Linked DNA regions of Homo sapiens: regions 1, 2 and 3 are each linked to region 4. The links come from fine-mapping of genetic effects on plasma protein levels. A gene starts in region 4. Each other region holds a variant in brackets. All regions are shown on one strand. Distances are from middle to middle.

Region 1 (8,100 bases), 72 kb before region 4:
GGGGTGAGGGAGCAAGTTTCAGAGAGAGTTCTGGGCCAGGTCATACCCTTGGGGCTGGACACGGCCCCCCAGCCTGAGATGAGACACTGCATGCCTGGGGAGACACAGGTCTGGCTGAGGTTGAGGGGCTGCACAGCAGGACTCAGACGTGCCTGCCTGGGCAGGCGGATCAGCATGATGTCATCATTGTGGTCATTGGCGCTGAGGTCCTTGTTGAAGCCAGGGTGGGGGAAGAAGTCCGTAACCCGGAACAGCTGCTCCGGACCCTCCCATTTCCAGAGGTGGTGCTCTCCAAGGCGGACCCACAGATACCTGCTGGGACAGGCCTCAGAGGTCAAGCTGGGGGAAAGGTAAAAGTCCTTTCAGCCCCAGCCCTCTTTTCCTGTCCATCAGGGTGCTGTGTGACCCTCTGCAAGCCACACACCCTCTCTGCACCCTCATCATCTATGTCTGGCCCAGGGTACTGTGATTTTAAGCGAGGCACACACCTCCTCTGGGTCCCTGGTCCCCACTCTGATGTTTTGTGTGTCTCCATCTTTGTAGCTCTCCCCACAAAGCCCCCGCTCCTAGTCCCAGGCTGAGTGAGCCACCTTCCTCCCTACTCACCTGGAGCCTTGGTGGTGACTTGGGTCCCTAGGAACGGTGTGGGCACGGGGGACCCCACCTACCACATAACAACCGCCCCACCCCTGCCCCCACAGGTCTGGTGGCTTCTGTGGGAGCGGCTCTGTATGTCTAAGTGGTGTGTGTGTATACGTGTGCGTGTGTATGAAAGGGGATGGGATATGGAAAATCCCCAAATTGGGGGTCATCTCTGGCCTCAGCTTTTCCTGTCTATCATATCCTTCACCCTTCAATGCATGTCTTCCTGGTGTCTAACCTTAAGCCCTCACCACAGTCTCAGCGCACTTGTTTCATTTCTGGTCCATGCCCTAGACAGCTGGGATCCTTTCGGGGATGACAAGTCCATTCCCCAGCCTCTGACCTCTGACATTAGGCAGCAGGCTAATGACTGCGAATTCAGGGTTGGGGAACCAGAAACATCTGTGTCTGTCTCTCTCTGTCATTCTTGCTGTCTTGGCTCTGGATCTGGAAAAGTAGTCCTCACCCCTACATCCCTTCATCCCCCTACCCTTCCCCTGCCTCTCACTCTCTTCCACCTTCATATCTCTGCATTTCTCCTGCTTCACTTTCGGCTGAAATCTGAACATCGTTCTCCCAGTCTGATGTATAGGCTTAAGTTAAAGGAGGTTCCATCATGGAGCAATGCATGATGGGAAATTCCCACACAGCATCTCTTACCACAATCAGTGCTTTACTCATGGAGGGAAGAAAATTGGAACAGTATGGATGGTCACTTTTCAGAGGCAATGGAGAGAGGATTCCTGCATCAGGTGGATTCCAGGATACTATTAGAATGCCCAGAACCTAAGATTCTAGAATTCTCAGATTCCGACACACTATTATCCATGATTCTAGAATCTAGAGGCTCAAGGTTTAGAGTTTTATGAATCCAAGATTCTAACATTCCAGATTCCCCTGGATCAAAAAAACTCCAGGATTCTAACATTATCTGAATTAAATCTAAGATTTGAACATAGAATTTTAATGTTCTAGGACAAAAAGACTAGAATTTTGGCTGGGCGCGGTGGCTCACGCCTGTAATCCCAGCACTTTGGGAGGCCGAGGCGGGCAGATCACAAGGTCAGGAGTTCAAGACCAGCCTGGCCAATATGGTGAAACCCCCGTCTCTACTAAAAAAAAAAAAAAAAAAAAAATAGCCTGGCATGGTGGTGCATACCTGTAATCCCAGCTACTCAGGAGGCTGAGGCAGGAGAATTGCTTGAACCCGAGAGGCAGAGGTTGCAGTGAGCTGAGATTGTGCCACTGCACTCCAGCCTGGGAGATAGAGGGAGACTCTGTCTCAAAAAAAAAAAAAAAAAAAAAAAAGAAAGACTAGAATGTCATCATTCTATAAATCTATAACCTTAGAAATTTAAGAGTCTGGGATTCAAATAGTTTAAGACTACAGAATTATCTGAATCTCAATATTCTAGGATACTGTGAATCAAAGATTCTAGTACTGTGAGTTTCAATATTCAATGAATCTAGAAAGCTCTGAATTTAAGATTCTAGGATCACACTAGCCATTATGGCTATTGAACACTTGAAATGTGGCTAGTCCATTTTGTAACAGGCTATGTGTGTAAAATACAGAACAGATTTCAAAGGCTTAGTACCAAAACAAAAGTAAACTGTATCGTTCATACGTATTTAAAAATTGATTACATGTCAAAATAAGTTTTTGGGTATGTCAAGTTAAATCTATTAGAATTAATTTTACTCATTCCTTATTTTTTAAATGTGTCCACCAGAAATTTAAACTTACACATGTGGCTGGCATCATAATTCCTCTGGGCAGTGCTGACCCAGACTGCTAAGATTCTAATAGTCTGCGAATCTATGATTCTAAAATTTGCTGAGGCTATTGCAGAATTTCATAAATTCAAGATTTTAGGATTCTACGATTCTGGATTTCTCTGGGTCAGTCTCGGATTCGAAGAGCCTAAGTTTCGAATCTTAGACTTCTCAAATGAGATATTGCTGGTCTCTAGAATTTTAGGATTTGGGAGGCTACCCTTCCTACTTCTAAGAGTTGAACTTGTGGTATCAGAAGTGGAGGCTCCGCACTTCTGGCCTAAAGCACCCCTCACCCTCTCCTGACCCCCAGCCTCTGTCCCTCCCCAGCATGGCCAGCCTGGGTCACTCACGGCTTGCGGCAGTGGGCAGCTGTGAGCAGCCAGCGGTCACTGATGAGGGTCGCCCCACAGAAGAGCCGAGTAAGGTGGAAGAGGCCGGCCTGCCAAGGCTGGGAGTTGGGGCGACATTCCTCGGCCCCGATGGCACGGGTGTCTGCCCAGCCATGCCCTGGGGTGGGGATGAGGGACAAAGGGGTCAGCGAAGAGCAGGCTGGGAGGGCAGGGAGAGGATGCTGAGAAGCCTAGAGGGCAGGAGGCAGAAGCCTGGGATGGGAGGGAAGAGCAAGGTGACCTTAGTACAGCCGTGAAGGGGCAGCCAGCCTGGGAGCCTCACCTGCCAGCAGAGAGAGCAGAGCACAGAGGAGTCCCAGCTTCATGACCCCTGGGCACCTGGATCCTGGAACGTGCACCCGGCGTCCAGTGCTTCTTTATGGTAAGCCATGCCATCTCCTTCCTCCTCCATGGGGCCGCCCCTGTGATTAATCGGGGTTGGGAAATGTACCTGGGGGAGGGGGAAGCCCTGGGGCTGTGACAGGGGCCTTGGGAGAGGAGGTAAGTGCAGGGGGACCCCCCTTTTGGGATGAACTGGCGGCTTGCTGGGCCAGAGCTTGACTGAATGGAGGAGGAGTGCTGGGGGTGTGGAGAGGTTGTGGGCACCTCCTCTGGGGTCTTCAGAGTGGGAGACCTCATTCCTCATCACCTTAGGCTACAAGATACAGAATCTTTTGTGTCCTGGAAAAGGAGGGAGATCCTTGAAGCCTAAGGTCCTGGGGTGCAGCAGGTTTATTTTGGATAAAGCAGTGGTGTGCAGAGACCAACCTCCCACGGCAGGCTGGAGGGATGTGCAGGGGGACCACCCAGAAAGGAGGCGAGGGGTGGAAGACAGAGTCAGGACTCAGACACAAGAGCAAAAGATACAAAGAGAGGGAGGTACAGGCACAGAAGGACCCAAGATGAGAGGAGGAGTGGGAGGAGGAGACAGAACACGGGAAAGATTGAGGGAAATCCAGGTGGAGTGAGGCAGAGACCACAGGCAGCTGCACAGGTTTACACACCTTGCAGAACCTTCCCTGCCCTGGGGATTTGGGCCTCTTCCCACAAGGACAAGGCCCTCTCCTAGAATGTTGAGAAATCTGGTTCCATCTGGATTAACCCACTCTTGTCATAACCTGCCCCCTTCCCCACGGCTCCACCACCCAAGGACCCAGGTGCCCAACCTTCCAGGTAGCAAGTGCCCTGTGCTCTCTCTTAATACATCCTGATCTTTGCCAAATCCTGAGAACATTTGCTATATATTTTTTTCATCCATCTCCCTGCCCCCCACCCCATTGTCCCTTCCATCACCCCATCCTCCCTGCCTCTCTCCTCATCATTCCTTCTCACCAGGTGGACAGCTTCTGGAGGGCTGGGCCCAGGTCTGACTCATCTCTGTGTCCCAGCATCACCCCGTTCCAGGCGGAACAGGGCTTGCAGAAGTCCTCAGGAGATGTTCATTGAATGAGTGAATGTCTTTCTCCATATCCTTCTTTTCCTGGTGAACTCCCACTCATCCTTCAACACCCAACCTCAATTCTCCCTCCTCCAGGAAATCTCTGAGATCCTCAGGCAGAGTCCATCTTTGCCTCCCCTGGGCACTTACGATCCCTTCCACTTTCTCCTGCTCACAGGCCTGGTTATGAAGCTGGGTCTGGGCTCCCCTTGAATGTTCTCTCACTGTGTCGTCATGGTTTGGAGCATGGACTCTGGAACTGAACCATGTGTGTCCAAATCTCAATGATTAGGTGTGATTAGTGATGAGGTGTGTGACTTTGGGCAAGTCACAAGACCTCTCTCAGTTGCTCCATCTGTTTTTTGTTTGTTTGTTTGTTTGTTTGTTTTCCAAAACGGAGTATTGCTCTGACACCCAGGCTGAAGTACAGTGGCGCGATCTCAGCTCACTGCAACCTCTGCCTCCTGGGTTCAAGCAATTCTCCTGCCTCGACCTCCCAAGTAGCTGGGACTAAAGGCGTGCGCCAAGACACCTGGCTAATTTCTGTACTTTTAGTAGAGACGGGGTTTCACCATGTTGGCCAGTCTGGTCTCCAACTCTTGACTTCGTGATCCGCCTGCCTCAGCCTCCCAAAGTGCTGGGATTACAGGCGTGAGCCACCGCACCTGGCCTGCTCCATCTGTTAAGTAGCAGTAATAACGAGGGT[C/T]GTTGGGGGGATTAAGCAAATTTACACACATGAAGCACAACAGTGTCTGACACATGGTAAATGTTCAATGTCTCTTCATCCCCTGCAGAAACCTGTGGTGCCTTTATCATAGCTCATTTCACCCTTGCCTGCAGTTGTCTCACTCCCTTTCCAGACAGGGAAGTCCTTGAGATCAGGGACTGGGTATCCACTATGTGCTAAGTGCCACCTTAACTGCTATTAAGAGCATTTTAGACCAAGCGCGGTGGCTCACGCCTGTAATCTCAGCACTTTGGGGGACCGAGGTGGGTGGATCACTTGAGGTCAGGAGTTCAAGACCAGCCTGGCCAACATGGTGAAACTCTGACTCTATTAAAAACACAAAAATTAGCCAGGCATGGTGGCGGGCGGCCTGTAATCCCAGCTACTCGGGAGGCTGAGGCAGGAGAATTGCTTGAACCCGGGAGGCAGAGGTTGCAGTGAGCCTAGATCGTGCCACTGCACTCCAGCCTGGGCAACAGAGCAAGACTCTCAAAAGAAAAATAAAAAAAAAATGAGCATTTTAATAGCTACCTTTATTGACTGTGTTCTCAGTGCCTGGTGTTAGGTGAACTTTGCATGTATATTATCTCATTTAATTATCCTTTTGTTGTTGTTGTTTTTTGTTTTTTGACACAGGGTCTCTGTTGCCAAGGCTGGAGTGCAGCGGCATGATCATAGTTCATTGCAGCCTCAACCTCCTGGACTCAAGTATTCCTCCTGCCTCAGCCTCCTGAGTAGCTAGGACTACAAGGTGTGCACCACCATGCAAGGCTAATTTTTTTTTTTTTTTTTTTTTTTTTTTTAGTAGAGACGAGGTTTCACTATGTTGCTCAGGCTGATCTTAAACTCCTGAGCTCAAGCATTCCACCCATCTCAGCCTCCTAAAGTTCTGGGATTATAGGAGTGAGCCACTGCGCCCAGCCTATCTCATTTAACTCTCACGGGAGTCTAATTAAGCAGGTGTCTCCATTTCACAGAGTGAAAACTGAGGAAGAGACAGCATTCAAGTAATTTGCTCAAAGTCATACAGCAAAGTGATTGAAATGCATTTCCTTCTCTACCTGGTGAACTCCTACTTATCCTTTAAACTCCTGCACAAATGTCCCCTCATTGAGAAGCCTTTCCTGACTCCTTCAGGCACAGCCTGTGGACTTGGTGTGGTGCACCCCATACCCCCTTCTGTTACAGCACTGATCTATTTGTGTTATGTGTTCACACAGCAACGGGGGTGACTTCTGTGTGCCGGGCACAATACAGGAGCTTAGAAAATCACAGTGAACAAATATCTGAATCACTGCCCTCACGGAATTTGTGGGGAAGGGTGACATAGACCATTATCAAGTAAACACAAATGAGATAATTTCAGGTATAATAGGTGCTATTAAAAAAAAAAACAAACAAACAAAAAACAGAGCATCGGGACTGGATGACCAAAAGTGGACTCCTATAGCCTGGGCAATTCAGGAAGGCCTCCCGGAGGAGGTGACTTTTGAGTGGAGACCTGAATGACAGGAATGTAAGACTGGCCTGTCTCCCTGACCTAACTAGCAGCTCCTTGAGGGTAGTGCCTGGTCTGATTCATCTTTGAGGCCTGGCATAAGACGTGGCTCGATAAACATTGTGGAGTGACTAAAGGGACGGGTGAGTTGCCTTTAATAATGAATCGAGTTTTCAAGTTTCCACCGACCTCGCTTCTGGTCTTTGGATGACAAACCCAGCTGATACGCCTGTCTGACATTTCCTGCGTGTGCTAATGGGGGCAGAATGGGAAAGAGGCCACGGAAGGGAGCTGTGTGCTCAGACCTTGTACATCAACCTCCTGTGGGCTCTGCAGGGTGGGGGACCTTGTGATCACCCCTACGTATGTCCCCAGCACCCAGCACTGGGCCTGGCACATAATAGATGCTCCATAAATTGGTAACTGAAAGGACAAACAAACAAACAAAAACCCCGTGCTTAATGGGAAATTTCTGTTGTGCCTATATTCAGCTAGCTTATGTTACTGCTTCAAAGTTCAGGATAAGCTGAGACACTCAAACTTCTTCTTTTTTTGAGATGGAGTTTTGCTCTTTTGTCCAGGCTGGATGGAGTGCAATGGTGCAATCTTGGCTCACTGCAACCTCTGCCCCCCGGGTTCAAGTGATTCTTCTGCCTCAGCCTCCCAAGTAGATGGGATTATAGGTGCCTGCCACCATGCCTGGCTAGTTTTTGTATTTTCAGTAGAGATGGGATTTCACCATTTTGGCCAGACTGGTCTCGAACACCTGACCTCAGATGATCTGCTTTCCTCGGCCTCCCAAAGTGCTAGGATTACAGGCGTGAGCCACCACACCCAGCGGACACTGAAGCTTCTATTAGCCTTACCTGGATTCTGTGTATTAACTCCCCTTCCCTCCCCCAATTTCAGGGAGAATCAAACAATTCCTCCTCCCAAGTTTTCAGGACGAAAATCTCACAGCCAATTAATAACAGACAAACCAAAGATTTTCCCCTAAATGTCAGAGGGAGGTTTCTTGGCACAAGCTGGGCAGTTGAGGTGGCAAGGGTTTCCCAATCTTCACTACCCCCTCGGCCCTCTGGTCTTAGAGGCTGGGATAGAAGCAAGGTGAGGTCCCTTGAGTTCAGTGGCCTCATGAAGGCAGAGAAGGTGCTAATGACTCAGGGCCAGCCTAGCTCGGAGGAACTGGTGTTGGGTGGAACCAGAAGTGGGAAACAGTGGGAGATGAGAAGGAAGTGGTTAAAAGGTGTTTCCTGGGACTTGGAACTAGGGTGAGGAAAATGATTCTTCCATCATCCCTAAGGGTTGGGGATGGAAGGTTGGGACTGGGGGCTACCCTGTGCACTTCTTCCCTGGACACACGCTTTCACCGGGACGTGGTCAGATCACGACAACAGGTAACCTTTAGTCAGAACTCACCACCCACTGTGTTAAGCCTTACATGACAATCACCATGAAGATTTACATACACATGTTATATCATAGTCTCCTCACAACATGTCTAAGAGGTAGGCACGTCATTGTTCCCATTTTGCAGATGAGGAAACTGAGGTTCAGAGAGGGCACTTGGCTTGCCCAAAGTCACACAGCAGGGAGTGGCAGAGGAAGTCAGGTTGGGTGACCCCAG
Region 2 (8,100 bases), 47 kb before region 4:
GCAGCATCCCCTTTCCCTGATTCATCCTCCATCAGTTCCCCTCCTGCTTCCAGCCCCTCCCCTTCACTTCCTGTCCTGGTGACCACGCACGCTGCCTGCACTGGCTCACCTGGCAGGCATCCTGCCCCGGGACGCCGCCTGCACACACCATGTTGCTCGTGATTCTCCCGGGATACACACCATGGCAGGTGGCATGGGAGACGATGGAGAGGTTGAGGCACTGGAGCAGATCCGGGAATGGGTCTGGAGAGAGAACATGCGTGCTGCAGGGTCCCCTAAATCTCCCCACTTTGAGGCCACGTCCCTCTTCCCTGGATGTGGCCCATCCATGTCAATACCCCTGCCCCTCACCGACCTGTACTACAATCCCGAAACCTCCAAGTTACATATTTATGACTTAATTTCATATGAATCATGACCCCAGATGATTGACGGTCTCTTTGATCTTTGACATTTGACTTTGAGTGGCATAACTCAAGAACTTTCTTGTCTCTCCAGCGTCAGAGACAACGAATCCAGACCTGACCCTCTTCAATGCCAGCTACTGTGATCTTTGACCTTCTGTCTTATTACCTTATGATCCCAGCTTGATCTCATATCTTCTGTCTCCTGACCCCATGTCCCTGTCTTTACCTTAACCTCCAACCTCAGCTCTGCATCTTCCAAACCTCACTGCTTCCAACGCCAGTGTCCCCTGATCCTAGTTTATTGGGCCCCAGCCTCCATGACCCCAAACTTCGGGCCCCACACCCCAAACGCTATGACCTCCAATCTCAGATATGTGATTTTGGATAGAATCCCAATTTCCATCCTCAGATTTTGACCAGATTGTACAACCTCTGGATCCCATGACCTTAATTCTACGGTGACCTCTAACCCCAGACCCATGACCCACAATGCCCATATCCTATACATACATATATATATATATATGCCTTTTGCTCCAGTGTGATGACCTCTGACACACTCTGACCTCTGACCTCTGATCCCTGACTTCATACCCAGTCCTTTAACCCCTTTGGCTCCCAAGACCCCAATCCACCATAATCTCTGACCCCAAACCATGATCCTGATGTCCCATCCCACACCCTGACCCTTTACCCATCCTTCCTCTGAGGTGTCATGATTCGACCTCTCGCCCTGCATCCCAGACTTGTACCCATCCTGACCCCTGACCCCTGGCCCTGGGCCCCTTACTCCGTGGGTGGTTGGTGATGCCCCAGCCTGAGACGTGGCACTCGGTGCCAGCGGTTGCACAGTCATTGGGCAGGGGCAGGGGTTGAACGCTGCTGGTTACGCGGACGGGCAGGCGCAGCCGCAGCAGCCGGAGGTCGTGCTCGTGGCTCGTCGAGGCTCCCAGGTAGCCGGGATGGGTCACAGAGAAGCCGCTGTGCCGGATCTGCTCGGTCCAGTCGAGCTGGCTGAGGCTGTGTTCCCCCAGGCGCACCCAGTACCTGCTGCCGGTGGCGACGGCTGAGCGGGTGGCAGGCACGCAGTCCCCCACCTTGCACCCCTCCACGGACACTCAGGCGCTCCTGCCGCTCCCCACTGTTCTGCCCCTCACTGTCTGTCCTCTCACCCGCAACTCTCATTCTCCGAGTCTCTCTTACAGGCTCTTATTCCCAACCTCCATCACCCTCTTTCCATCTTGGGTGTTCCCTGTTTCTCCTACCATGTCCCTGCATCTGTGTCTCTCTCTCTCCTTTTTTTTTTTTTTTTTTTTTTCAAGACCGAGTCTCGCTCTGTCGCCCAGGCTGGAGTGCAGTGGCACCATCTTGGCTCACTACAACCTCCACCTCCCAGGTTCAAGCAATTCACCTGCCTCAGCCTCCCAAGTAGCTGGGATTACAGAAGCATGCCACCATGCCCAGCTAATTTTTGTATTTTTAGTAGAGATAAGGTTTCACCATGTGTGTCAGGCTGGTCTCAAACTCCTGACCTCAAGTGATCCGCCCGCCTCGGCCTCCCAAAGTGCTGGGATTACAGGTGTGAGCCACCGCGCCAGGCCTCTCTTTCTGATTCTCTCGGCTGGTGAAGCCCATGAAGGCAGGGACATCAGTGGACCTTGTTCACTGCCTTATTCCCACCGCCTGGCACGGAGCATGTGCCCTCCATGCTCATGCGTGGACGAGTGGGTTCATGATTGAACGAGTGGGTTGATGAATGGCCTCTCTGCATCCTGCTGCTGGCCCTCTCTCTCCCTGAGTCTCTGTTTCTTTGCATCTGATCTCCCCTTTCACAAAAAAAGTTCCAGGCCAGGCACAGTGGCTCATGCCTGTAATCCCAGCACTTTGGGAGGTCAAGGCAGGAAGATTGCTTGAGCTGAGGAGTTTGAGACCAGCCTGGGTAACATAGCAAAACCCTGTCTCTACAAAAAAAATTTAAAAATTAGCCAGGTGTGGTGGCGCAGGCCTGTAGTCTTAGCTCCTTGGGAGGCTGAGGTGTGAGGATCACTTGAGCCCAGGTGGTTGAGGCTGTAGTGAGCCAAGATAGCATCACTGCACTCCAGCTTGGATGACAGAAAGAGCAAGACTCTGTCTCCAAAAAAAAAAAAAAAGAAAGAAAAAGAAAAAAATTCCAGAACATCAGTCTACTGAGGCCCAGAGAGGTGCCAGGCATAGATTCTGAAGTTGCACAAAGAGTTTGGGTCATGTTGGCCGGGTGCAGTGGCTCACACCTGTAATCCCAGCACTTTGGGAGGCCAAGACGGGCAGGTCATTTGAGGCCAGGAGTTCGAGACCAGCCTGGCCAACATGGCAAAACCCTGTCTCTACAAAAAATACAAAAATTAGCTGGGCATGGTGGCGGGTGCCTGTAATCCCAGCTACTCAGGAGGCTGGGGCAGGAGAATCACTTGAACCTGGGAGGCAGAGACAGCAGTGAGCTGTGATCACGCCATTGCACAGCAGCCTGGGCGACAGAGCGAGACCCTGTCTCAAAAAAATAAAAAAAAGAAAAAGAAAAAGAGCTTGGGTGAGACCTGGGCCCCGGGCCCAGACTGGGTCAAGGAATGGCTGGGGTGAGTGGCAGATGTCATATAGGAAAGAAAGGGTACATGCAGGAATGGGAGAGGCAGGAGGGCAGGTTCCAGGACCCTCCCCGGCCCTCCACCCAACATACCTCACCCTGCCCAGCACCACCCCAGGCCCACTGCTAAGGAAGTTCCACTCCTGGTCTAACCTCAGACTCTCTTGTTGCAGGATCAGCTTCTTCCCAGTGGGCACCACCCTCCCTTGTGATCCTACCCCCAGCGCTTGCCTTCCCATAGTCCTCCCTTCGCCCACCCCAGGAAGGGACTTACCTGCCGCTGCAGTGAGCCGCTGTGAGGACCCACCTGTGGTCAATAAGGACACCCCCGCAGCGCAGGCTGGTGCCCTCAAACAGCCCCACCTGCCACGGCTGTGAGTTACGCCCACACTCAGTGCCATTGAAAATCTTCGGTGTGGCTGCCTGGCTGAGCCCTGGAGACAGACAGGGGCATGGGTCAGAGAGAGGAAGAAAAGATACAGAGATGGAGAGACACACAGAGTGAGAGAGAGAAACAGGCAGGAGAGAGAGAGGAGAAAGAGAGACGAGAAAGAGAGAGAAAGAGAGAGAGACCCAGTGATAGAAAAAGACCATGAAACATCAAAGACACCCAGGGAGAAAGATGCTTACACATAGGAGGGAAATGGAGAGACAGAGATTCAGAGAGGGACAGAAGGGAAGAGGGATCAAAAAATAGGGGAGACCGAGGTGAGCAGTACCCTGAGAGCTGCAGGTAAATGGAGGCACAGAGAAAGCCCCTCTCCTCCTCACCACCAGGCTGGGGGCCAGAGCTGAGATGGGGAGGGTGGTGGGGCCTCCTCATGGGGGTGAAGGGATCCAGTCGCAGTCCTGCCCTCTCCCTGCTCCGGGAGAACTCACCAAGAACACACAGGAGCAAAAAGATGCTGAGCCCCATGGTGGGTCACTTCCAAAGTCTGGGGGAAAAGGGGAATCTCAGAGGTCACCCTTTCCCTGTGCCCCCCACCTCTGCCCTCTCTGCTTCTCTTTGAAGGTCACCAAGGGGATGACCTGCTTGTCCTCTCTCTACCTGCTCCCCTGTGTGTCACTCCCTCATTGGCAGTCGCCTACCTCCTTCTCACCTTGTCTCTTTGTCTGCCAGATCCTCTACGTGGCTGTCACTGTTTGGCCTGTCCTCGTCGCTGCTATCTCTCCGTCCACCTACCTGCCTGTCTTCTCATGTGCTGGCCACTCCGCCAGCCAACTCTACCACTCTGCACCTGGCTCCTCAGCCACCTGTCATGTTGCTCAACCGGTCCCTTTCCTTCCATCTGTCGCTCCAGACAGACCACTGACAAAGCTCTTAACTCTCTTTGTCCTGGCCCATCCAGTTTCCGGGTTAAGGGAAGGGGACCACGAAGACAGGGGTGGGGCGTGCTCTAATTCTGCAGAAACTCTTCTCAGCTAATCACACTTAATTGAGCTTTACAGCTAAACGGAGTGGGGAAGGAGGAAAGGACCCAGGGTGGGAAGACCCAGCCCCACTCCCTCTCTCCTCTGCAAGCCCGTCAGCAGCCCCAGGACTGATGACTCAAGGTGACTAGGGAGCTGGGTTCTAATCCTGACTCCAGTGACAAAGGA[G/T]GGTGGGGAGACCTTGGACACCTGGGGCCCATCCCCATGCAGTGCAGGGGAGGGGCAGGGGGAAGGAGAGGCTGTGAAAGCAGGAGAGTGGACGGGAGGGGCAGGAAGCCCAAGCTAGAAAGAGTCCCAGAAAGAGAAGAAGAGTTGAAGGAACAGACTTCCAAATAGGTGATCAGGCAGGGGTAGAAGAGAGTTTCTGAACTGAGTTCATATATGTACATATGAAGTGGATCAATCTAATTCCATAAAGTTTTTCTTTGCTAAGAACTTCTATTGCTTAAATAAAACCCACAGAGAGAAAAAAAAAAGACACAGGGAAGGAGAAATGGTAGAAAGAGAGAGAGAGAATGAGTCACAGGACAAGGGAACTTTGTGCTGTTTTTTGTTTTTCGTTTTGAGATGGAGTCTCGCTCTGTCACCCAGGCTGGAGTGCAGGGCTGTGATCTCCGCTCACTGCAACCTCCACCTCTTGAGTACCTGGGATTACAGGCACGTGCCACCATGTCCGGCTAATTTTTGTATTTTTAGTAGAGACGGGGTTTCACCATGTGGGCCAGGCTGGTCTTGAACTCCTGGCCTCAAGCAACCTGCCTGCCTTGGCTTCCCAAAGTGCCGGGATTACAGGTGTGAGCCACCATACCTGGCCTCTGTGCTGGTTTATCTGAGTTTTTGCTTCATCTAGGAGGAATGGAAGGAGAGAAAGAAGGAGAGAGAGAGGGGACAGAGAGAGAAAATGAGAACAAAAAGGGAATTCGGCTCAGAGGAAGGGGGATTGAGAAACAAACCAAGAGAAAAGCAGTCAGGGCCAGGCGCGGTGGCTCACGCCTGTAATCCCAACACTTTGGGAGGCCGAGGCGGGCAAGTCACTTGACGCCAGGAGTTCAAGACCAGCCTGGTCAATATGGTGAAACCCCATCTCTACTAAAAATACAAAAATTAGCTGAGTGTGGTGGTGCATGCCTGTAATCCCAGCTGCTCGGGAGGCTGAGGCAGGAGAATCCCTTGAACGTGGGAGGCGGAGCTTGCAGTGAGCCGAGATTGTGCCACCGCACTCCAGCCTGGGCGGCAGAGCAAGACTCCATCTCAAAAAAAAAAAAAAAAAAAAGAAAGAAAAAGAAAAAAAAGAAAAGCGGTCAGACAGAGCGCACAAACAAACAAAAAAACCCAGAACAAAACAGAGGAGAGCAAACTCCCACCCTATGACTGTCTTTTAGTCCTTCACTTTCTCTCTGGGTCTCCAGTCTCTGTCCGTGTCTCATTTTCAGAATCACAGAACCTTAGCTTTTGATTTGCTCTTAGAAACGACCTAACTGCTTTAACTCATCATTGGTCAGCGCGACTGGCGTTGATAACGCTGGTCCCTACAAAGCCTCCTGCTGGCTGTTAAGAGCTTTCCTTCTTTGGGCAGAGAGGATAAAAAAGCACCATGACTGTCCTTTCTCTGGAAAGGACACACGTCACACGCTCACAGCACAAAAACGCCACTTCTTCCTTTTTCTGGTGTCAAGTTTTACAATAAACCTCAACTGAATAAGCAAAGAAACAAAAACAAAAATACCAACAACTACCCAACTCAACCTCTCTCTCTTTTTTTTTTTCTGTGTAGATTTTTAAGAGAATCAGGTTTACTGATGTGGAATTTATATCCAATAAAATTGAATACAAAAAATAAGGCGGGCTCGCTGATTTTAAGGAGCATTCATGCAAATTAAAAATACCATGTATATAGTTAGTAACAATGTATTGTGTACTTGAAAATTACTGACCGAGTAGGGTTTAAGTGTTCTCACTACAAGTAAATATAAGTATGGGGCCGGGCATGGTGGCTCGTGGCTATAATCCTAGCACTTTGGGAGGTTGAGATGGGAGGATGGATTGAGGCCAGGAGTTAGAGGCCAGCCTGGGTAACATAGTGAGACCCTGTTTCTACAAACAAAAACTAAAAAAATTAACCAGGCATTATGGTGACACAGGCCTGTAGTCCTAGTTATGTGGGAGGCTGAGGTGGGAGGATCACTTGACCCCAGGAGTTTGAGGCTGCAGTGAGTTATGATTGTGCCACTGCACTCCAGCCTGGGCACTCCAGCCTGCACTCCCGTCTCAAAAAAAAAAAAAAAAAAAAAAAAGACCAGCATGGGCAACATAGTGAGACCTCATCTCCACAAAAAGTAAAAAAAAGTTAGCCTGGGGGAGGGGCATACCTGTGGTCCCAGCTACTTGGCAGGCTGAGGTGGGAGGATCGCTTGAGCCCAGGAGGTGGAGGCTGCAGTGAACCATGGTCACACCACTGCACTCTAGTCTGGGTCACAGAGCAAGACCCTGTCTCTCTATAAAAAAAAATAATAATAACTTTTATTAAAAAATAAAATAAAATAAATTTGTAGATGAGGAATATTTTGCCTCCAGAACTCAACGAGGCCTAAAATGTTTTGGGTTTGTTTTAATGCTGTGGGTGCTAAGAGACTCAATAGCTGTTTCCTGGCAGTGTCTCAGCTGGAGGGGTCCTCACTTTACCAAATGATTTTCAGAAATTTAACCAAGGTGGGGCCGGGCGTGGTGACTCACGTCTGTAATCCCAGCACTAGGCCGAGGTGGGCAGATCACTTGAGACCAGGAGTTCGAGACAAGCCTGGTCAACATGGTGGACCCTCGTCTCTACTAAAAATACAAAAATTAGCCAGTTGTGGTGGTGGGCACCTGTAATTCCAGCTACTCCAGAGGCTGAGGCAGGAGAATCACTTGAACCTGGGAGGCAGAGGTTGCAGTGAGCCGAGATCGAGCCACTGCACTCCAGCCTGGGTGACAGAGTGAGACTCCGTCTCAAAAAAAAAAAAAAAGAAAAAAAAGAAAAAGATATTCAACCAAGGTGGGAGGCCTCATACTCTGTGTGGGGCACTGGCCCATCCCATTGTGTGAGTTCCTCTAGAGTATTTGTGAATCTAGAATTAGCGTATCCTATGGGCTTCCTTTGGACAAGGGTGTTTGTCACCATATGACGTCATGCCTGTGCTTTTGGAGAAACGTGGATGGAGCTGGGGTGTTGCCTGTGTTGCATGTCAGAACGTGATAGCCCAGAGTCTGGAACTTCAGCATGCTGAGTGCTTTGAGCTGAAGGAGATTGGAAGACCTCAGGAACAAGAGGTTCTCTCCAACCTCCTCCTGCTTTCCTCTCCTCTCCCCTTACTTCTCCTTTGAAGCAGTCACAGACACTAGAATTCCTTTTCCCCTGAAGACCCTCATGTGACAGGTGTCCTGCAGAGGAAGAAATGCAACACAGAAAGGCCCAGAAGAATCTGAACAAATGGGACCTGCTGGGATCCCCCCTCAATTTATGACCAAGAGATCATACCTGTTTTTTGGTTTTTGTTTGTTTGTTGAGTTGGTTGGGTTTTTTTGAGATGGAGTCTCGCTCTGTTGCCCAGGCTGAAGTGCGGTGGCACAATCTCGGCTCACTGCAACCTCCGCCTCCTGGGT
Region 3 (8,091 bases), 14 kb after region 4:
CCCCTCCCATTTATTTCTGTTTAAGCTCCACGGTGTACCCCAACCTTCCCCCTGTGTCTCCTCTAAGTTAGTATCCTCTCCCCAGGTGCTTGGGTCAAAGACGCTTGGGAGCGTCTCTGATTCCTCCCTCGCTCTCACCTCCCATTTTGGCAGTTCCTGTCACTTAGCTCCAAAGTACACAGTAAAGAATCCACCCACTTGTCTCCTCTCAGTCGCCCTCTTCCAAGTCACCCTTATCTCCCACCTACACAGGTGCAAGAGCATCCAAACTGGTCTCGCTGCTTCCAGCCTCGACCCCCAACCCCTCCCTCCCTCGCCCTGCTAAGTCCATTCTCTACTCAGCAGCCAACGTCTTCTTAAAACAATATCATGTTAAAACCTGCTTAAAACCCATCTGTGAGTGCCCACTGCAATTATAATAAAACGCAAATGCCTCCAAGGCACTTGGTGTCTGGCTTCTGTCCATCCTTCCAACCTCATCACTGCATTGTGTACTGTGCCTCTGCCCCCTGGAACTTCTTCCATCTTCTCAACATTGGGAGGCGCCTTCCCAACTTAGAGGCTTGGCCTTTGCTGTTCCCTCTGCCTGGGACATGCTTCCCACCACTCTGCCTGTGATCTTCCTTCAGATTTCAGCTTAAAGGTCATCTCCTGACCACCTTCTCCAGAGCTGGCATTCCCTTCCAGTTTCCATCTCAGCTTCTTGTGGGTTTCCTTCCTACACCTTATCTCAATCTGTAATTGCTCTATCGGTTTGCTTCCTTGTTTATTATTATTGCTGGTTTTCTTCCTCTCTATGGTGTTTATTACTGTCGGATGTCTCTCATGTTTTATTTATTTACTTTCTTACTCTTACGTCTACTCTGTCTCCCACGACTTGAATGGCAACCCTGACAGTGCAGGGATTTTCACTGTCTTTATCTGCCTCTATGCCCTGGCACATAGGAGGTGTTCAGTAAACCTTTGTGGAAGGAAGAGGCATCTCTTATTAGAACTGAGGCTTCACGAGGGCAGGGACCTTGTCTATCTTGTTGCTGAATCCCTGTTGCCACGTCTGCCACCCGGCACGTGGCAGGGGCTCTATAACAGGCTGAAGGAGGAAGATCATCTCAGAGCCTGTTTAGAATCTCTGCTTTTCTCCAGAATCTCTGCACTCAATGTCTCCACCTCCTCAGACCTGACAGCGATCTCCAATGACCCAGCCCCAGGAGAGCACACAGGTGGAAGATGGGGAAGCCGGTCTTTCTGAGACTGGGCTCCAAATCCCTGCAGTGGGGAGAATGCTTCTGACCTGATGGGATGAGACGCTGGCGTTTCGCCCCACTGCCACCTTTAGTTGTGTTTATGTAGAGGCTGTGTTTGCCAAGGCCACAGGCCACAGCAAAAGTCCCTTTGTCCCCATGAAGACTGGGGCCTCCTGTTTAGCTAAAGGAGCGTCTGTGTTCACTTGGGCCTCCAGCCTCAGCAGCTCCCTGCCCCTGCCCTCCATATTTACCAAGCCTTCCTCCTCCAGCAAAAGAATTTCCCGGGTTTACCATGGCCACCGGCATATGTGGCGAACATCTTTTTTGTTTGTTTTTGTTCAGTCTGCCTGGAAGAAATGTCTCTTGGATTTACACTGCCTTTGAGAACACGTAGGGCTCTTCGCCCTTAGGAAACACACCCTCAGCATTGAATAGGGTTCCCAGCTCTTGGTGAGGACTTCTTAAATGGCCCTCACATCCATTCTCACCATCCTGACACCCTCGCCACTGCCCCAGTTTTGGCTACCAAATCCATTCCCAGACCTTTGTCCCAGCCCTCTCCCTGGCCTCCTGGCTGAGTCTTCCCTACTCCAGTCCTTCCTGGACACGGCCCCAGAGGGATCTTTCTGACACCCAGAGCCGGCCCTGTCTGCTCTCGCCCTCCCTAAGTGCCCCATCCCGGCCAGAAGAATTCCAGTGCTTTATGGAGGGCTGGCCACCCCCTCCACCATCCTGCACAGGGAGGAGCGGCAAAGCCTCGCAGGGACTTGGGGCTCCCATGCCTGCAGGCCTCTGTGCCTGCCATTCTCTCTGCCTTGCACATTTGTCCCCATCTCGCCCTTTCCTGTGCTCATTCTTACTCATCTCCAGCTCCCGGTTTACACATTACCTCTTTCAGGAAGCGTTCCATGACGCACCGCACTGAGTTAGAAGCCCCACCTCAGGCCTCCCCTGTGTCCCTCCTAAGCCCCACGGTGGCACATATCCCTCCGGATCTTGACTTGCCAGTATCCCTGCCCGCCTCCGCTGGCAGACAGGGAGCCCATTGAGGGCAGGGACTGGGGCTGACTCAGCTGCATTGCCCCACCGCCCTGCGCAGGGCCCGCCAGCTCCAAGGAGGCGTCAGGAAATGTTTGCTGCATGAATAAAGGGGTGATCAGTATCCCTCCTTTACTCAAATATCCTCCATGGCTTCTGCAGTGCTTAGAAACAAAGCCAAGCCAAAGTCGCTTCTCCCTCTCACCTCTCTCCTCCACCTGCCCCCTCTCCTTTTTCCCTCAATCTCAGAGTCTGCACTTGCTGTTTCCTGCCAGGAACACTTTCCCAGAGACCCTCCACCCCTGTGCTCTCTGCCTCACCCTGCACCTTTCCCTGAATATCTCCTCCTTGAAGCCTCCCCGTCCCTCCTACTTAAATAGAAGCGATTATCACGATCCAACATACCATATATTTGACTTATTTTTCTCGTTTTTTTTTTTTTTTTTTTGTATCTCCCTTGAGGGCATGGTTTTGTTCTGTTCACTGCTGTCACAAATCACCTGCTCAAAAAGTATTTGTTGAGTGGATGACACAGGGGTCTTGAGGTCAAGGAGTGTCTGGTGTTTATACGGGGCCTTAAGATCTCTGCCAACCTGTGTCTCTCACCCTTAAGGACTGGCTCAGAGACCAGCGGGCAGGTGGGCAGAGACAGCTGAGCTCCCAGTCGGGGCTGGGGAGGGGGAGACCTGGCTTTGATGTCAATGACCACCGGATGCACAGGCGAGGTCACAGCGACCCCTTGTGGCCAGAGACGAAAAGAGCACCTCCCCCCCGCCCCGCTTTTTTTTTTTTTTTTCTTTTTTTTTTTTGAAACGGAGCCTGGCTCTGTCGCCCAGGCTGGAGTGCAGTGGCCAGATCTCGAGATCTTGGCTCACTGCAACCTCTGCCTCCAGGGTTCAAGCCTCAGCCTCCTGGGTAGCTGGGATTACAGGCACCTGCCACCCCGCCTGGCTAATTTTTGTATTTTTCGTAGAGGCAGGGTTCCATCTCAAATTCCTGATCTCAAGTGATCTGCCTGCCTCAGCCTCCCAAAGTGCTGGGATTTCAGGCGTGAGCCACCACACCTAGCACCCCCAGCTCTTCAGAGACCCCCATGAGGAAGGCCGCAAGCCCAGGCTAAGAGGGACGGCGAGCACTCACTAAATGCCAGGCGCTCTTCTAAGCACTGATATGTATTTTTAACAATAACCACAGGACGGAAGTACCATTCCTCCCCACACTGTACAGCC[A/G]AAGAACCTGCTCAAGGTCACACAGCATTCCCGGCAGAGCTTGGTTCTGAACTCAGGCAGTCTGGGTCTAGGAAGCACATTGCAAACCTGCGCGGTCCAGTGGAGTGCCCACAGGTCCCATGTGGCAGCCGAACTGTGGGGAGTCTGGATTGAGATGGGCCGAAAGTGTAACATACACACCGAATTTTGAAAACTCTATATGAAAAAACATGTATAAAACATCTCGCTTAAGTTTTAACAAACTGATTACATATTAAAATTATAATATTTTGTATAAGTGGGTCAAATAAATTTATTAAAATATCACTTGTGTCCCTTCTCTAAAAATACGGCTATGAAAATATTCTAAATTATACATACGGTTTGCATTTTCGATTGGAGAGTGCCTTAAACCACAAAAGAAATCTAATCCACTGCCCACCCCACCCCATGCACAGGGACAAACTCCAATGAACAGAAGGGAAAAGGTCCCTTACCCAAAGCCACACAGTAAATCACTGGCACGTCAGCAATAGGAACCTAGGTCCCCTGGCTTCCAGCAGGTAGCCCAGCAAAAGTGTCCAGAGCTCCAGCTCCTTTGCTGATTTGCTGCAGTGTGGCCCTGGGCAACTTACTTCACCTCTCTGGGCTGTAATTTCATCCTTTATGAAATTGGTGCTGAAGGAACCAACCCAAATGCCCATCAATCAACGAGTGGATAAAGAAACTGTGGTGTATACGTATACGATGGACTACTACTCGGCCATAAAAAGGAATGAATTAACAGCATTTGCAATGACCTGGATGAGATTGGAGACTATTATTTTAAGTGAAATAACTCAGGAATGGAAAACCGAACATCCTATGTTCTCACTGATATGTGGGAGCTAAGCTATGAGGGTGCAAAGGCATAAGAATGATACTATGGACTTTGGGGACTTGGGGGGAAGAGTGGGAGGGGAACGAGGGAAAAGAGACAACAAATACAGTGCAGTGTATACTGCTCAGGTGATGGGTGCACCAGGATCTCACAAATCACCACTAAATAACTTATTCATGTAACCAAATACCACCTGTACCCCAACAACTTATGGAAAAATAAAATATTAAAAAATAAAAAATAAACTTTTAGATTCTTCTACATACCAGTTAAAAAAAATTGGTGCTGAAAACCCATTCCTTATGTCACTGAGCTAATGAGGAAGGCAGGCACACTTGGCACTAGGACTGGCACACAAGCGTCATCCTATACAATTGATCTTGATCATCTTGCACCCCCTACAGCTCATTCTCCTCACAGCAGCTGGAGTAACTTTTAGAAAATGGAAATTGGACCCACTGTTGGGACCAAAGCCCTCCAAAGACCTACCATCACTCTTAAAATACAAGTCTTTCTTGCCAACAGAAGACCATGCACGGCCCATCCCTGCTTAGTGGCTCGTTTCATCTCTTGCTATTCTCCTCCTCACCCACTCTGTTCCCGCCACACTGGACTTGCTGTTCCTTGCACTTGCAAGCTGATTCCCACCCCTCCAGGCTTTTGCACCAGCAGTTCCCTCCACCAGGAAAGCTCTTCCCCCAAATGGCTCCATGCTTTGTTCTTTTGCTTCTGTAGGTCTGTGCATAACGTCACTTCCTCCAAGGCCCTTCCTTCCCTGACCCCTGTGGAAACAAGCTCTTCCTGTCTCTCTCTCTCATCATTTTTTTTTTAATTTGTAGCATTCATCACTACCTGACATTACATATTGATGTGCTTGCTGTCCGTTTCTCCCAGACTGAACTTCATGAGGGCAGAGACTTGTCTCCTGTTCACTGCCATGTTCCTAGAACCCAGAGGAGTGCCTGATGCAAAGGAGATGCTCATACACGTTTTGAGTGAATCATCTAGTCCTTGGCCTCCAGCCCAAGTTTGGGTGGCCACACAGTGAAGACAGGACTGAGAAGCAGGGGTTTGGGAGAATACTAAGCCCTGGGTTGGGTGATGGGAGGAGAGAATTGAGAAGCCTTCTAGGAGGACCCTGGAGGATCTGAGCAGGGTGATGGGAAGAAGGGGCATTTCTGACAAGAAGCCAGCCCAGCAAGTCCTGGAGGTGGGACTGAGAGCACCATCTCCCCGGGAAGTTTGAGATTCTCACAACCTCCCCGTACCTGTACAGGACAGCAACCCTGAGACCCGGCGCCCCCTGGTGGTCAGACAGTAACATGAACGACCAAGTCCAAGTGGTCACCATTTATTGAGCACCTCAACTTCTCTGATCTTCCATTTCCTCCCAGTGGTGCCTTGATGCGGGGGGGATGGGGGGGCGGGGGGGAAGGGGGCTGATTATATTTTCATAGGAGAAATGGGACATGAAAGAGGCTAAGTCACCGACAGGCTCACACAACCCTGCCTCCAGAGTCCAAGGTTTGGGGAACGCATCCAACCCCTCCTCACCCGTGACAGAGATACCAGGAGAGATTCGAGAGGGGATGGGTGGGGGAGGACCAATTCCACGACCTGTGATATTCGAGAGCTTTGGAGGGAGCCCTCGGTGTGACCCCTTCCGACTGGGTGTCTTAGGGCCATTTACCACTTCAGGCTACAGCCAGTGAGACCGTGGTGGAGACGAAATGAGGGTGCAGTGCGTGCTACACACGAAGCGCTGGAAGGGAGGCATCGTGACGGCGGCTGTGAATGGCGTGTGTCCATCAAGTCACGCTCCGCTTACCCCACTGCGGGCAAACAGGAAACATCAGGAATCTGATGCTCAAGGAGGGTCAGGACCATGCTGAGCGCACCCAGAACCAGCAGAGGCCCTGGGCAGGAGGTCCCCAACCAATCCCCACTCGCTCAAGAATCACACGGTGTTCAGCCCCCTCCTCCCTGAGACCCAGGAGTCCACGACCCCAGGCCCTCCTTCCTCAGCCACAGATGCCTGGGGTCCCCAGTCCCACTTCTTCTAGGCTTAGTCCTGGCCCTCTCCTCTCTCAGACCTAGGATGGTCCCCCAGCCCCCTCCTCCCTCAGAGCCTGAAGCCCAGTTCGAGACCCTTCTTCCCTGAGACCTCGAAGTCTGGGGTCCCAGCTTCTTCAGGGTTTCAGGTGAATGGGCCCCCGTCTCCTTCCCAACCCCACATGGAAGGCCAGGTAAGGTAACGGGTTTATTCACAGTGTCATTTACAGGCAGCCCCCACCCCGCGGCATCAGATCCCGGCGGGAGGCCCGAAGTCGCTAGAAGGTGGGGACGGCCTTGGAGGCGGGGGGCCGGGCCGGATCCCCGGGCGTCCCCGGCGTCGCCTCCTCGTCCAGACCCCGGCGGCCCTTGCCGATGGCCAGGCGGGGCCGGCCGCGGTTCAGGCCGTCCAGGAGCGCGCAGGCCTGGCAGAGCGCGCGGCTGGCCAGCGCCCCACAGCGGGAGCAGGCGCCGGGGCGCGGGGGCCGCGCGGCCGGGGCCAGCGCCAGGCGCTCGGCCGAGTGCACGAGGTCCAGCACCGCGGACGGCCGCGCCGCCTCCAGGCGCTTGAGCAGGTCCCGGGCGTGGCCGCGGAAGGCCTCGGGCGCGTAGACGCACTCCTCGGAGAAGTAGTCGAGGCGGCGGAAGTGCGCGTACAGCACCACCTCCTTCTGCGAGGCGAACTGCAGCGGGCGGCAGCGCGGCAGGGCGCCCCCCTCGCCGGGAGAGCCCAGGCCCCCGCCCCGGGCCAGCCGCCCCGCGTCGCCCCGTAGGAAGTTCATGAGCACGGTCTCCGCCATGTCGTCGGCGTTGTGACCTGGTGGGGAGAGAAGGGAGCGGGTGAGGTGGGGCGCGGAGGGCGCTGCTGGCCAGGGAGCCCCCCGGGGAACCAAGGGTCCACCAGGACCCAGAGAGAGACTGGGAGGAGAGACCCACGGAGACCCAGGGCACAGTGGGGCCGCCAGGACCCAGAGAGAGACGGCGACGGGGAGAGCAAGCCATGGAGACAGACCCCCAAACATGGTGTGACAGCCAGGATCCAGAGACAGGGAGGGGGAGAGAGAGCCATGGAGACCCCTAGGGCACTGTGGGCAACCAGGACGCAGAGAGAGACGGGGAGGGCAAGAGCGAGCCATGGAGACCCTCCGGGAACCGTGAAGCAGCCAGGTGCAGGCTGCAGGTGGACACAACAAAAAATCAAAGAGAAACATAAGCTCCCCTGGCGCAACTTGGGCGTGCCTTCATGTACCACCCGCCTACTGCATAGCGGACCTTATGCTAGTTGCCCTTTCATATAGGGAGTAAAAGTGCATTATGCTGCTAATAACCTTATCAGCCTCAGTTAAAACCGTAATTCAAACTGTACACAAAAATCAGAAGGCATTTAAGGCATTTAACCGAGATTCTCAGGAGAGCTGGAGGGGTAGGCAGGCTGCTGTCTCCCCCACCGCCTAGGGAATCCATGGCCTAATTCTGGGAACCTGTTAATATGTTTGGTTGTAGGACAAAGGGGAATTAAGGTTGCAAGTTGAATTGGGGCTGCTAATCAGCTGACTTTACAATAGGGACAGAATGGTGCGTTATCCAGGTGCGCTCAAGGTAATCACAAAGACCCTTAGAGGGGAGGAGGGAGGCAGAAAAGGGAGAGATAGGGCCATGGAGACCTTTG
Region 4 (8,100 bases):
CATTCCCCAAGACACGAGGCCCTGGAGCTGTCCTCTGCACACCAGGGGTCCCCCAGAGTCACCCTGAGGGGGAGGAACAGAAATGGAGACACTGATGGACAGGTAGCCAGAGCCACCATGGCACAGAGAACCCGAGAAGCAGACACAGGGAGACAGGCAGAGACACTGGTGGACAGTTAGGGACACAGTCCTGCCCCAGCTCTGAGGTCTCAGCCCCGGAGGTCGGGGCACTTCCTTCCCTCTCCGCTGGGTCTGGCTCTGTCTCTGTGTGCACCTGCCTGTCCCTTGAATCTCACCAGGCCCCTCTCTGTTCGCTCCAACTGTAGAACATTTGTGTGTCTCTCTTTTTCTATTTCCCCATCTCTGCCTCCCTCAAGGATGCATTAAGATTTCTAGAAGCCTCAGCACAGCCTTTCCCAGACCCATATGAGCAGAGGCCACTCTGCGATCTTTCCCCAACCTGCCTCATCCCATTCCACCAACTACCCTAAGAGGGTTACTCCCACCTGACAGATGAGGAAACTGAGGCATGAATGCTCTGAGTCCATTACCCAGGGGGCACAGGGCTAGGAAGCAGGGTGGCCTGGCTATCGGAATCTCTCTGTGCCTGCGGTTCACTCTCTTCTGAAGACCTCTGCAGACTTCCATGCTCCTGACATCATTTGCTTAAATCCCAGTCCCAAATAATCCCTACCACAGCTCCCATCCTGGGCCTTACCTGACAAGAGTCCTTCCCGCCCTGGGGAACTCCTGCACAGACCATGCCAGGCGTGATGGTTCTAGGATAGGCCTTCTGGCACACCTCATCCGGGGAGATGTTGATGTTCACGCATTGCAGAGAGGCGGGGTACCTGGCTGGGGGACACTGCAGGGTTATAACTGGGTCTACCCTCCCATAAGACCCAAGGGTCCAGGCCCCCAGCCCCTCCTCCTTCCGACCCAGGAGTCCAGCCCCAGCACCTCCTCCCTCAGACCCAGGAGTCCAGGCCCCCAGCCCCTCCTCCCTCAGACCCAGGAGTCCAGACCCCCAGTCCCTCCTCCCTCAGACCCGGGAGTCCAGGTCCCCAGCCCCTCCTCCCTCAGACCCAGAAGTCCAGGCCCAGCCCCTCCTCCTTGAGACCCAGGAGTCCAGGCTCCAGCCCCTCCTCCCTCAGACGTATGAGTCCAGGCCCAGCTCCTCCTCCTTGAGACCCAGGAGTCCAGGCCTCAGCCCCCTCCTCCCTCAGACCCAGGAGTCCAGGCCCAGCCCCTCCTCCCTCAGACCCAGGAGCCCCAGTCCCCCCAGCTCCACCTCCTGGAGACCCAGGAGCCCAGGCCCAGTCCCCTGCTTTCCAAGACGCAGGAGTCCTCACCGATGGGGCTGGATATAGTTCCCCAGCCTGACACTCGGCAGGAGGTCCCGGGGCTGGCACAGGCCTGGGTGACCTCAATGGGCCTGACTGCCCTCCCGATCCGTGCGGGCTGCTGTAGCTGCAGCAGCATGAGGTCGTTGTCGTGGGTCCGGGAGTTGTAGTTGGGGTGCGTCACCTGACGAACCACGCGCAGCACCTGCTGGGTGGCCTCCCACCTCCTCAGGTTGTGCTTGCCCAGGGCAACCTGAAGGATCCTGGCCACGACCCCCAAGAGAAGCGCTGCTCAGGGTCTGAGCCAGAGACTCCTCCCCACCCTCCAGCCCGGTTCCCTGGCCGGGTGACGAGTCTTCCCCGAGGTCTAGCCTGCTTCTCACTAACTGCAGGCCGAGCATTCTTGGCCTCCTGTGCCCTTCCCCATGGCCAGGGCATTCTCTCGGCCCAGCCCCAGCTGCCTCTCCTTCCGCTCTTGGGCTGGGCTCCAGCTCCTGGCTTGGGAAGAAGGTGATGATTGGGAGAGCTTGGCTCCGTGCCAGGGTCTGTGCTGGGCTCGGTGCATTGAGTCCTAAGCGAAACTGCGTTATGAGTCTAGGCTCTAAATCGGAACTGATATTCCGGAGTAGGCACCATTCTGTTTCTAGCCTGGGTTCTGAGTTCTAGACATCTTAAACTTTTGACTCTATGCTAAGATCAGGATTCTAGATCGAACCTGGATTATGACTTGATTTATTTATTTATTTTTTTTTTGTGATGGAGTCTCGCTCTGTCACCTAGGCTGGAGTGCAGTGGCACGATCTCAGCTCACTCTCGACCTCCAACTCCCAGTTCAAGTGATTCTCCCGCCTCAGCCTCCCAAAGTGCTGGGATTACAGGCGTGAGCCACCGCACCCAGCCTCTACAGGTCTGTTTCATATTGGATTATAGGGCTCTTGGTTCTGGACTCTGGCCCTAGCCCTTGACCTCAGGTTGGGCTCTGGGTTCTAGTTGGAGCTCTAGGTTATGGCCCGGATCCAAGATTCTAGAGTCTGGTTTGCATTCTGGCCTTTATATTCTAGACTCTGGCCTGAGCTTTGATCTCTAGGTTCTAGACTGACCTGTTTATGGCATAGATATGGCTTATAGGCATTTTGACCTCTTGGCTGGGGTCTGGGTTGTAAGTTCAGATCTAGAATTTAGGAGGGGTCTAGGTTTTATATGGGGCTTCTGATTAGGATCTGCATTCTGGGATTTATTGATTGATTGATTGATATGGAGTTTCGCTCTTGTTGCCTAGCCTGGAGTGCAATGGTGCGATCTTGACTCACTGCAACCTCCGCCTCCCAGGTTCAAGTGATTCTCCTGCCTCAGCCTCCCGAGTGGCTGGGATTACAGGCATGTGCCACCATGCCTGGCTAATTTTGCATTTTTAGTAGAGACAGGGTTTCTCTATGTTGCTCAGGCTGGTCTCGAACTCCTGACCTCAGGTGATCTGCCTGCCTCAGCATCCCAAAGTGCTAGGATTATAGGCATGAGCCACCGCACCCGCCACATTCTGGGATTCAAACACTGGGTTGAAGTCTGCTCATAGCGGAGCTATAGACTAGACTCTGAACTAAACCTTGGGTGTGAAACAGCCTCCAGGTTTTGCCTCTATTCTTAGAGTTGTATGTTCCAGCTGTGAGCAGCGTTCTAGTTCTGGATTTATGGCTAGACTGCAGGTCCTGAACTGGGCTCTGAGTTCTACGTAGTGTCCTGAGTTTCTGAATGTAGACGGGGTCCTGAATTCAGCCACCAATCTGGAATGGGCTAAGCTTGGTCTCGATGTAATGTGTGGCCTCTGGAAGAATCACTGGATCAGATGTTCGGTTCTCAGCAGGTCCATGGGTTCCAAGCTGCCCATCTGCTTTCAGAACCTATGCTGAGTTCGAGATTTATGGAGGAGCCCACATCCCGAGCTGTGTTTTTGTTCCAGGCTCTTCTCTAGACCTCAAACCAGGAGCCAGCCACTACATTGGGTTCTATACAGAGATCCAGGTTCTCAGCTCAGCTCTAGGGCTTTAGACTCTGGAATTCACTAGGTACAGGGACAGGGGAGGGGGTCACTTACGGGCGGCCGCAGTGAGCAGCAGTGATGACCCACTGGCCTGAAAGCAGGGCGCCTCCGCAGAGGAAGCGGCGCCTGGGACCCGCCAGCAGGGCCGCCTGCCACGGCTGGGAGCTCCGGGTGCACGTATGGCCACCAATTATCTTGTTCTCATCCTCTTGGCTCTGTGTCATGGCTAGGAGTGGACAGGATTGGGTGGGGAAAGTAGATGAGCAAACACTCTCCACTCCACAAGTTTGTAGGATTCCAAAACTGACAAATCCCCTTCCTTTTGGTCTAACCCCTAAACTGCCCGCCTCTATCTGTCCCACCCAGGGTGAGACATGCCCAATATTGACCCCGTTATTGCCCCAGCACGGAGAGCTTTCTGACTCACCTCCCAAGTCACCTCCGTAGCATCTCTTATTTTGTGCCGTGGCCACCTTATCCAGGGCCTTGCTACATCTACGACCCTTAGCTCTATGCTCCCATAATTTCTGTGATCACTTCTCGAAATATGCCACATTTCCCCCCAATGAGTCCTTCCCCAACACATTCAAGGACCTCCCTGTCTCCTCCCCAACGTTCCCACTCAGTGGGACCCCAAGGATCCGCCATCTCTTGCCCCACACTTGCCCCCATCCACCTCACACACCCATGCCACGATCCCGCCACCCCATGCCACGATCCCGCCATCCCATCATCCTTCTCCACCTTCCCTCTGACAACAAAACATCTTTCTGACATTGTTTCTTTCCTAACACAGTCAGGTAGAGCCCCGTGATCTTTCTGCTATGACCCACTCAGGACCTAATAGTTCCCTAAGATTCCTTATGTATTTTGCACCAGACCTTATAAACACCTCTCTCCCCGGCCCCACAATTCCCTAGCACCTCCACAACTAGGAATTTAGGCCTCCAGCACGTTCCCCCACCATGACCCCCAAACCACTCCCTGCTCTTTCTTATGAGGTCACCATGAGCATCCAGGGGCCCCAAGGACCCATCCCCATCTCTTCTCAGAGTCTCCAGGGGACCCCCTTGTGTCATACCCAACCGTTCTCTTACCTATAGCCAGGACTTGAAGTGCTGTCAGCAGGAGGAACATTTTAGGGGCTGAGGGCCAGGTCCTGTCAAATGCAGAGAAAAAGTGAGAGAGAAGGAACCTTCAACAGAACCGGGGGCTGAGAGGCAGAGACAGCAAGGGGCACTTACCCAGAGCCCAAGACCCTCAGGGACATGAAGACACAGCAGAGAGGTAGGGACCAGAGACGAGGGGGGCGGGGCCTGCAGGCTCTGCGGGCGGCAGGTGGGAGGATGTGGAGCAGGGCACAGGTCCCTCCTTGATGTCTTGATGAAGGAAGGAGGGGAGGTGTCTCTCTTCCTAGTCACACTGGCAAAGCCTTTTATCCCTGGTAAGGACAGCTGGCCCTGCCCCCACCTCCCGCCGCCCTGCTTCTGACATTTTTTTTTTTTTATTGCCTAGTTCCCATTCCAGGACTCCCTGATCCCATCCCCTCCCTCCCCTGTCTGGCCAAAAAAGCAGCCACAATTGTTCATGAGAACCCGCCCAGGGAAGATGCTATAATCTAGAAGGAATCCTGGGAGGGGACCCCAGGGCAGGGTGGGCAGGGGAGGGTTCCCAGTTGCTGGAGGTGGTGGATCTAGTGGTGGAGTCAGGAAACCAGGGTGGGGAGTGTCAGAGGAAAGGGCACGAAGGGGCTGAGAGAGGGAGGAAGAGATGGACTGAGAGAGGGAGTCACGGGAGGAGGGAGAGAGGGAGAGAGAGAGAGAGAGAGAGAGAGACAGAGAGAGATGGAGAGAGAGAAAGACAGAGAGACACACAGACAGAGAGAGACAGAGACAGGGTGACGGGGGGGAGAGAGAGAGAGAGATGGAGAGAGAGACAGAGAGAGAGCCAGACAGAGAGACACAGAGAGAGAGAGAGAAAGAGAGAGACAGAGACAGAGTGACAGAGAGGGGGAGAGCAAGAGACAGAGAGAGACTGGGAAAATGAATGAGAAGATATGACAGTGGAGAGAGAGGAGTCCAGGAATACGAGCACAGAGGCAGGTGTGCTCATGAGAGAAGGAACTGAGGAGAGAGCTGGAGAAACCGGTGGAAGTTGGATGTGACAGGGAACAGAAGAGGCAGACGGTGGGAAAAAAACAAGACAGAGGAAGAGGGAGACACAGAGACGCAGGGAGAGAGGGGTGTGGAGAAGTGGAGATAGAAAAGCAAAAGACGGAGGGAAGAAGGTGGAGATAGAATGGAAACAGACACACAGAAAGAGAAAACAGTGGAGAGAGAGGAGAGAGGCCGAGACGCCCCCACCATGCGGCACTCACCACAAACACACACAGAACAACAGCGATGATGATGAAGGCAGTGCGGGCATGAGACGTGGAAGAGAACGGGACATGGTGGGAGAAAGAGGATGGGACAGGCAGGCCGATGGCAGAGGGGAGACGGGAAGGATGGGCACCTACAGGGGATGGGGACAATGACAGAGGAGACGGAGGCCTAGATGAGAGATGGCAGCGCCAGGGAGAGATGGAGAGGAGGGGTGGGATAGAGGACGGGCAGGAGGTGGGCGGGAGATACCTGGACCTGGAGCAGAGCTGCCCACCTTGCTTTCTCACTTTCGACTCCTGAGAGATGGGGGAGCAGAGGCCCCAGCAGGGAGCAGGAAGGTTGGTGCCAGAACTGGCATTCCCCAGCTTGGGATCTGCTAGGTGCAGAGACAAAGTGAGAGCTGGAGATGCAAAGAGAGAGTGACAGAGACCCAGAGAGGGGGACAGAGACCCAGAGGGAGAGGGAGAGAGACCCAGAAAGAGAAGGGGACAGAGATTCAGAGACAGAAGGACAGTCTTAACAGACGGGGTTGGAAATTCAAAATAGGAGACGGCAGAGAGCAGGAGAGACAGAGTGAATGAGATGGGGAAGGATTCTGGCCAGCCTGCAGGGGGGTTCTGGAGTTGGGGGGGTTCCATCCTCATTTGGGGGAGGGCCTACCCTCCTCAGCCCCTCCCCTAGCCCCTTAAATTCCCCAGTGCTTGTGTCCGTCTCTGGGCCTGGGCAGCCCCGTACCTGGACCACGTGGTGACTCAGGAGGCTGCTTGCCTCCCTTGGCTACCCCAACTGTTCCCCGGCCTCAGCCTGACTCAGCCTCCCTCCACCTCGGCACCCCCCTAGGCTGGCTCTTTGAGCTGGAGCTTGGCCTGGGTCTGTCTGTACACCTGGGGACGCACTGTCTGGGCACCTGCATCTGGAGCCACACACCCATCTCTCCCCAGGTGCCTTTCTGTGATTCCTGAACTGTTTCTGTTTAACTATGGGCCTCCCTGCTTTGAGCTGAAGGCCTTGGGAAGCCTTCCCGGCCTCCTCTGCCTTGGTTCAGGCTCGGCATCAACACAAGAACCCCCTCTTTATTTTTAAATTTTTAAATTTATTTTATTTATTTATTTATTTTATTTTTTTTTCTTTTTTTCTTTTTCTTTTTTTTTTTTTTGAGACAGAGTCTCACTCTTTAGCCCCGGCTGGAGTGCAGTGGCTCAATCTCGGCTCACTGCAACCTCTGCCTCCTGGGTTCAAGCGATTCTCCTGCCTCAGCCTCCTGAGTAGCTGGGGCTATAGGCACCCACCACCATGCCCCGCTCATTTTTTTGTATTTTTAGTAAAGACAGGGTTTCACCATGTTGGCCAGTCTGGTCTCAAACTCCTGACCTCAAATGATCCACCCTCCTTGGCCTCCCAAAGTGCAAGGATTACAGGCATGAGCCACCACACCCGTCAAGAACTCCCTCTTTTAAGAAAGGGTTCTCTTGGGACCCAGGGATGGGGTGGCAGGAGGGAGCTGCTCTGTGGTGACGAATCAGCTTTGCACTGGATGTGGCGGTGATTACACGATTCTACACATGAGATAAAGAGACACAGAAGCCCACGTGCACACACACACGTGCAAAGAAATGCGTGTGAAAAATGAACGCGCAGTGTGATCTGTAGTCTCATTAATAGTTTGGTTTCTGTGTTGATTTCCTGGTTTCCATTCTGAACGACAGTTACACAAGGTGTCGCCACGGGGAGAAGTAGGTGAGGGAGATTCCCTATGCTGTGTGTGTAGCCTCCTGTGAGTCTGTAATTATCTCAAAGGAAAAAGTTAAAAATAAAACAGAATTTCCTAGTAAACACAAGGTCTCCCTGTTCCTAAAAAGAACACCCTACTTAAGCAGAAGGCCTTGGTCAACCCCCAGGAGCCTGGGAGTGGCTCCTTCATGCCACTCTATCCCTGAGATCCAAGAGAATCCTTTCTTTAAAGGGTGGCAGGGGGGCAGGTGCTGTGGCTCACGCCTGTAATCCCAGCACTTTGGGAGGCCAAGGTGGATCACCTGAGGTTAGGAGTTCAAGACCAGCCTGGAAAACATGGTGAAACCCAATCTCTACTAAAAATACAAAAAAACTGAGCTGGGCATGGTGGTGGGTGCCTGTAGCCCCAGCTACTCAGGAGGCTGAGGCAGGAGAATCGCTTGAACCCGGGAGGCAGAGGTTGCAGTGAGCTGAGATTGTGCCACTGCACTCCAGCCTGGGTGACAGAGCGAGACTCTGTTGCAAAATAAATAAATAAACAAACAAATAAATAAAGAGGGGGTTCTTGTGTTTATGCAGAGCCTGAGCCAGGGCACAGAATGAC

Which allele goes with the higher level. Positions count from the first base shown, and alleles are read on the strand shown. Strength reflects both the effect of a copy and how common the allele is. Not every link is listed here.
For the plasma level of the protein whose gene starts at base 4,791 in region 4, allele T in region 2 goes with a lower level than allele G (moderate association).

What was found. PIP is the chance, under the fine-mapping model, that this variant and not a neighbour inherited with it causes the effect. Protein levels are from antibody-based Olink assays in UK Biobank. Linkage for the fine-mapping came from a reference panel and not from the study's own genotypes, which makes the PIPs less certain.
Region 1: its variant is fine-mapped to the plasma level of the KLK14 protein (UK Biobank, PIP above 0.99).
Region 2: its variant is fine-mapped to the plasma level of the KLK14 protein (UK Biobank, PIP 0.94).
Region 3: its variant is fine-mapped to the plasma level of the KLK14 protein (UK Biobank, PIP above 0.99).

Annotation. Positions count from the first base shown.
Region 1 is chr19:51,006,412-51,014,511 of GRCh38, forward strand. It overlaps KLK9 (kallikrein related peptidase 9), which reads right to left and starts at 3,181. Exons shown (of 5, transcript NM_012315.2): 1 at 3,094-3,181; 2 at 2,772-2,928; 3 at 47-312. The coding sequence starts at 3,136. KLK10 (kallikrein related peptidase 10) reads right to left here. Exons shown (of 6, transcript NM_145888.3): 6 at 6,328-8,100. RefSeq lists enhancers at 168-667, 3,064-3,564. The variant C/T (reference allele first, on the strand shown) is at 4,955.
Region 2 is chr19:51,030,679-51,038,778 of GRCh38, forward strand. It overlaps KLK12 (kallikrein related peptidase 12), which reads right to left and starts at 4,324. Exons shown (of 6, transcript NM_001370125.1): 1 at 4,128-4,324; 2 at 3,907-3,962; 3 at 3,302-3,461; 4 at 1,198-1,457; 5 at 110-243. The coding sequence starts at 3,943. RefSeq lists an enhancer at 7,438-7,938. The variant G/T (reference allele first, on the strand shown) is at 4,627.
Region 3 is chr19:51,091,901-51,099,991 of GRCh38, forward strand. CTU1 (cytosolic thiouridylase subunit 1) reads right to left here. Exons shown (of 3, transcript NM_145232.4): 3 at 5,706-7,239. The coding sequence ends at 6,701. Among named protein-coding and RNA genes, the nearest start is that of CTU1, 12 kb to the right of the region's middle. The variant A/G (reference allele first, on the strand shown) is at 3,512.
Region 4 is chr19:51,078,097-51,086,196 of GRCh38, forward strand. It overlaps KLK14 (kallikrein related peptidase 14), which reads right to left and starts at 4,791. Exons shown (of 6, transcript NM_001369775.2): 1 at 4,626-4,791; 2 at 4,479-4,540; 3 at 3,436-3,607; 4 at 1,353-1,606; 5 at 719-855; 6 at 1-63. The coding sequence starts at 4,518.